Linked DNA regions of Homo sapiens. The protein of the gene in region 2 purifies or fractionates together with the protein of the main gene of each other region. This does not show direct contact. Each region holds a gene or a part of one and is shown on either strand. Other genes may lie near its edges. The genes, in order: IGSF3 and ABCA1.

Evidence for each region.
Region 1: the proteins of ABCA1 (region 2) and IGSF3 fractionate together in Homo sapiens (co-fractionation; one large-scale study listed by BioGRID). This does not show direct contact.

The regions. Positions count from the first base shown.
Region 1 is NC_000001.11:116,657,413-116,661,238, forward strand, and holds part of IGSF3 (immunoglobulin superfamily member 3 isoform 2 precursor), read right to left. Parts: intron 1-3,826.
Region 2 is NC_000009.12:104,782,831-104,785,481, forward strand, and holds part of ABCA1 (phospholipid-transporting ATPase ABCA1), read right to left. Parts: coding exon 2,566-2,651; intron 1,626-2,565; coding exon 1,485-1,625; 3' UTR 1-1,484. UniProt on the Homo sapiens protein: Catalyzes the translocation of specific phospholipids from the cytoplasmic to the extracellular/lumenal leaflet of membrane coupled to the hydrolysis of ATP.

The DNA.
Region 1 (3,826 bases), on a different chromosome or scaffold from region 2:
AATAACCCCACTTTCCCTAACCACAGGGCTAAGCAACCTAATGGATCAAACATGTGTGCTTTGGTCATCCGCAACCCAGACCACTAGACTAATTTTGCTTTAGAACTGGACTATATCAAGTGTGAACGATCATACTGGTTATCATGTGGGAAAAAAGGTTTAATTACTCCCTAATGGTCTGGGAAACCAAAGATTTCAAAATACGGAGCTCCTGGGGGAAGGAGAGTTAATAAAATGGGTCCTTGAGAAGTGAAGTGGGAAGCCTGCCTCATGCCATGGCACCAGCGATGCCACAGGTGTACCCAGTGCCCTGCCGAGAGCAGAGACAGTGTTCTCAGAGTTGCTATCAAAAAGGAGGCCGCAGACTGCATTCTGAAGCATCAGACAATGGGTCACATGCAAAAACAGAATTAAATACACAAAAATAGCACCAACTTAAGGCAAGCCTGGGCAAACTGCACTACATCAAAGAAAGAACACACAACTGGTATCAGATTTTTTTTTCTGTTTTAATAAAGAGAAGGCCTGGACACCTGAAAGTTGACGGGAAGCAGGCATTACTCATTTCTCCGAGTTCACAGTTTTGTTAGAATGTCTTTGCTCTGATTATGGTTTTTTTTTTTTTGAAATGGAGTTTTTTGTTTTGTTTTGTTTTGTTTGCTTTTGTTGCCCTGGCTGGAGTGCAATGGTGCAATCTCGGCTCATCGCAAACTCCGCCTCCCAGGTTCAAGAGATTCTCCTGCCTCAGCCTCCCAAGTAGCCAGGATTACAGGCACCCGCTACCACATCTGGCTTTTTTGTGTTTTTAGTAGAGATGGGGTTTCACCATGTTGGTCAGGCTGGTCTTGAACTCTTGACCTCAAGCGATCCACCCGCCTCGGCCTCCCAAAGTGCTGGAATTACAGGCATGAGCCACCACGCCTGGCCTGATTATGTTTTGATGGATATACAGAAGCTCTTGCTTTGGTACAGAAACAGGCCCCCCTTTGCTTCGACCTCTGGGCCCCCCACCTTCAGAAATGTCTGGTGCCATTCCTGGCTCCTCCTCTCAGTGGTCTTCCAGGATATCCACTCACAGCTTTCTGATGTCGCCCACCTGTCTCTAGCCCAGATACCCAGTCCTCATGGCAACTGACTGCAGCAATTTTTACAAATCTACACCCTTAGGGTTCCCATCCCAGGACATTCAGGTTTCTCCACCCCTTTAGAAGTGCCCAGAATATCCTCTACCCCACAATTCCAACAGGACGTCACTCTCCTCTTACTTAAGAAAAATGCCTAAAATTCCAGCCCTTCCAAAAGGCCTTTCCAGATTGACCACTCAGGAGTTACTCTGGCCTCCCCTTCACTCCTCCTGCTAAACTGAAAACAAGGACAGACTTGCCTGGCCTCTCTCCCCCAGTAGACACCTACCCTCAGTGAACACATCCTGTCAGTGTCCTCCTGTCCATTTGCAAATTGATTGACTGTTTCATTGCTGGCCTTGGATGACCTCTCCTAGAGGGCAGGGACGGGTGGTGTTCGGCAAAGCCTTGGTCGTCTGGATAATGGGAAATGGGGTCTTCTGGTGAATTTAATTACAGGGTTAGGTGGAAACTTTGCTTCAACTCTCGTTATTAGAAAGCCTATTGTAAAGCTTTTTAAAATACAACTGACCACTTTCCAGGCAGGGTAGAGTTAATATGCCTTAATCTTTGATTTAGGATCTTGCAGTGCCCCAGGCTCACCATTCTCTTCTGCTACTATAATTATAGATGCGGAAGACATACAGACTGGGCTGACGACTGCTTGGAAGCTAATTTCTAGAATAAACCCTTGCTACCACATCTTGTGATTTTTGCCCTTCTGAAGGTGGAGTTCAAAAATAAAAACAAAATCCCACTTAACTGAGGGTTCCAGTTGAGGGAGGTCTGCTGCCATGGTCTTTGTTAAGTGCCTGCCACCATGGCCCACAATTAGTCAGTTAATAAAGGGTTCTTGATGAGAGAATTTGGCAACATGTGATTTTCCACAAATATAAGCTTGATTTTGATGCAACCACTCATTTCTTTGAAAATCAGGGGGCATTCACACACAGGTGTTCTAGATTTCCTTAAAGTAAAAACCAACCCTTTACAAGGAATAGCTGTGTTCACTTTGAAGCAGTAAAGAAGCAGGTGTCCACTCATGGCAAATGAGGAACTCCCTTTTTTTTTTTGAGACGGGGTCTCGCTCTTTTTGTGTGTGTGTGAGATGGGGGCCACCCAGGCTAGAGTGCAGTAGTGCAATTACAGCTCACTGTAGCCTCAACCTTCTGGGCTCAACCAATTCTTCCCACCTCAACTTCTGAAGCAGCTGAGACTACAGGTGTGTACCACCATGCCCAGCTAATGTTTTTGATTTTTAGTAAGATGAGGTCTTGTTATATTGCCCAGGCTGGTTGGTCTCAAACTCCTGAGCTCAAGTGATCCTCCTGCCTCAGCCTCCCAAAGTGCTAGGATTATCGGCATGAGCCACCATGCCCGGCCAGAAGCTAAAAATATTAATCAAGGAGTCATAACTAAGGATGCACTGCACACCCAAAGCCAGGGACCACGAGAGGTCAGCAACTGGGACTGCTTCCTCCAGTTCCCAGGCTGGGGCTCAGCAGCAGTGGCCTGGGCTCTGGGGACTTACTTTAAGCCTAAATCCCAAACTCATTATAATTCAAACCAATTTTCTGTGTCCAGCATCATCCCACCTGAACTGGTCCTTAAAACCACTGACAGTCATTTCTCCAATCTGTAAAAGGCCTGCTGAGGCCTTTGCATTATCAGGACTTAATTGGGAGTAGAATGCCCTCCCCATCAAATCCTGACCATTTCTGAACACTCAGCCCATGTCCTCTTCCTGAGTGTCTTCCCCAGCAACAACCACCTACACTGAACTTTACTTCGATCTCTGCAGGAAACTGTAGATAGAGATGCGGTCTCACTATGTTGCCTAGCTGGTCTTGAACTGCTGAGCTCAAGTGATCTCCCTGCTTCTGCCTCCCAAAGTGCTAGGATTACAGCAGTGAGCCACCACACCTGGCCTATGTATGCTTTTCTTTTTTTTTTTTTTTTTTTTTTTGAGACAGAGTCTTGCTCTGTGGCCCAGTCTGCAGTGCAGTGGCGCAATCTCAGCTCATGGCAACCTCCAGGTTCAAGGGATTTTCCTGCCTCAGCCTTCCGAGGTGCTGGGATTACAGGCACACACCATCACGCCCAGCTAATTGGCCAGGCTGGTCTCAAACTCCTGACCTCAGGTGATCCACCCACCTTGGCCTCCCAAAGTGCTGGGATTACAGGCGTAAGCCACCATACCCGGCCACGTATGCATTTTAAAATGTTATGCTCAGATGGGGTCTATAGGCTTCACCAGACTGCCAAAAGGATCCATAACACAAAAAAGGTTAAGAAGCTCTATAATCAGACAAATGTGAATTCAAATTCAGATTCTGCCAAATTCCAGCTCTTTTCCTTTGAACATAATTGTTTTCAAGGGAAAAGTGTCATGAATTTCCTTATCTTGATCAAGGAAGCCAACACAGAAACAACACCTACCTTGTGAAACCATTCACTCATCAAAAAATTAACTGGGCCAGGTGTGGTAGCTCACGCCTGTAATTTCAGCATTTTGGGAGGCCAAGGCAGGCGGATCACGAGGTCAGGAGTTTGAGACCAGTGTGGCCAACATAGTGAAGGCCCATCTCTACTAAAAATACAAAAAAATTAGCCGGGTGTGGTGGTGTGTGCCTGTAATCCCAGCTACTCGGGAGGCTGAGGCAGGAGAATCGCGTGAACCCAGCAGGCGGAGGTTACGGTGA
Region 2 (2,651 bases):
TTTTGCATTGTTGCAATTAAAAAAAAAAAAAAAAAGGCTGCCCAGTATTGTTACAGTGGGCTCCTACAACCACAAGACAACCTATATTTGTAAACCAGTGAGCTGAATAACATGGCACAGGAAGTGTACTGAGACTTAATATCTCTCTAGTCTTATACGTACGTACATACTCTTTCAGCTACAGCATACACTCAAAAAATATTTGATTGATGAAGTGAGATTAAGAGTATCCTAAATGATCTGAAAGAAACTCAAATATAATGTCATGAGATCCTGACCATCACATTGCTTTCTAGGCACTAGTCATGACTGATATGCAAACTTACATAAGAAAATAAAAATAGTGGGGCAGTGGCCATACTCCTCTATACCACAGGGTTCTACAAAGAGGCCATTCTAAGGATTCAGAAGTCACTGATAGAACTTAAAATTCCAAATAACATTAAAAAGTACAAACATTTTTGTCAAAATACAACTCCATCTTTTCATTTTCTAGATTAATTCAAAAAGCCAGAAATAATACACTTGTGTCAGATAAACATCTTGAGATGCAGTGTACCATGTTAGCAGACAGTCAGGACAAATGGGCACAGGCTTCCCTAGGTTTGAACGCACAATCTCTTTAATCCCATGCCCTGGCTTCAGCAGCTTGCAGCCCCAGCAGTTTGGCTGTTGATTCTTTGCCTCTTACCAGGATCTAAGTATATTTAAGAGTCTCATAAGGATGACCCTGTAGACCCATGGCTCGAAGCATAGGACAATATAACAATGGAACCAAGTTTCCCGTGCCTGGAGACACCCACATTTTTGTTGCATGTTACTGCCACCAGAACAGCTTATCAGAGGGAATCAAAGCAGGATGTTAGCCACGCATGGCACCATTCTGTCAACTGATATTCAATGTTGATAGACTCTGAGCAGAGCAGCTTTCACAAAAGTGAGCATGACACACCATGGTGCTTCAAACTTTCTGAAAAACTTGGCACTAATAACTCTGGCACACTCATTGCCAGCAATGGATGTGTCACCGGGAAACCAGTCTCCTGGGCATGGCATGGCTTAGTGAATGAGGATGTGCATTACCTTTTGATTTTGATCAATAATCGCTGGCCATGATTACTTGATGAATTATTGTTGCAACCCCAATGAGAATACACAGGAACAAAAAAAAAAAAAAAAGTGTGAGTTCAAACCCATATGTCCATTGGGTTCCATAATAGAGTTTCACATAGGTATAGGTAAAAAACTAAATTCAAGTCTTTCACTTGAGAGCCATACAAGACATAGGCTACAAAGGCACTGCCCCTGTAATGGAATTTTGTTTTCATTGCATTGAATTGCATTGCATTGAATAGTATCAGTACAGTATCCAGTTTACTTCTTCCCACATCAACTTCTGGCTCTTTTCTCCACAACACTTCACATGGTGCAAAGGAAAGTCTAGTTCCTCTTTACTTTCAGCCACCCCGTATGAACAGGATTCTTCATACATAGCTTTCTTTCACTTTCTCATCCTGTAGAAAAGATGTGAGAACTGCAACGTCCACTACTGTCTGGTTTTTGTGTAATGAGAGGTCTTTTAAGTGGTCATCATCACTTTGGTCCTTGGCAAAGTTCACAAATACCTGTTAAAAGATTAAGATGGACCTTTATAAATACCACTCAACTTGCTCATTCTTTATTCTAGTTCTATTTTTCCAGATGTTGAAATTAGGTCAAGTAGGAGCATACAGAATTACATAAATGGATTAACTAGAAAACTGTGTGTGAAGGAGGGAAGAATACTTGAAAAAAGCAATAACAACTTAAAAATAGACTTTTTTTCCCCCCTTGAAATGGGGTCTTGCTCTGTCCCCAGGCTGGAGTGCAGTGGCGAGACCTTGGCTCACTGTAACCTCCACCTCCTGGGTTCGAGCAATTCTCCTGCCTCAGCCTCGCAAGTAGCTGGGACTACAAGTGCGCACCACCATGCCCAGCTAATTTTTGTATTTTTAGTAGAGACGGGGTTTCACCCTGTTGGCCAGGATTATCTGGATCTCCTGACCTCATGATCTGCCTGCTCCTCAGCCTCCCAAAGTGCTGGGATTACAGGCATGAGCCACCACGCCCGGCCAAAAACTGACTTTCTATATCGCCCCCCACCCCTACATCACCAACTGCTCAGTCATCCATTTACTTTGGCACATACGGTCTTGATTAAAGGGAAGAGGGAAGAAAATATTTACTGAGTACTTCTTAAGTGTCAGGACCTATTTGGTACTTTTTTATCTAATTTAAATAGGATTAGGCACCAAGTAAAATGCCTGGCCCATGGTAGGTGCTCACTAAATGGTAGTTTTTATGGTTATTATTACAGTAAATTCTCACAATAATCCTATAGAGTACATAGGCATCATCTCCCTTTTCAGGTTCAGAGAGGTTTAGTAAAAAGCATAGCTAGGAATAGTAGATCAGGAATTCAAGCACCAATTCAAGATACAAACTGCTCTTGGACCTATGGGCGGGAGTGTCGGGGCAGGAATCCACACCCTGAGAAGTAAATCTGTTTTGACACTCAAAGCTTACTTGGTCAAGTGTTGTCTGAGAAACAGAGTAGTCTTCTATGTGGAGTCGCTTTTTGCTCTGGGAGAGGATGCTGAATATCCTGGCCA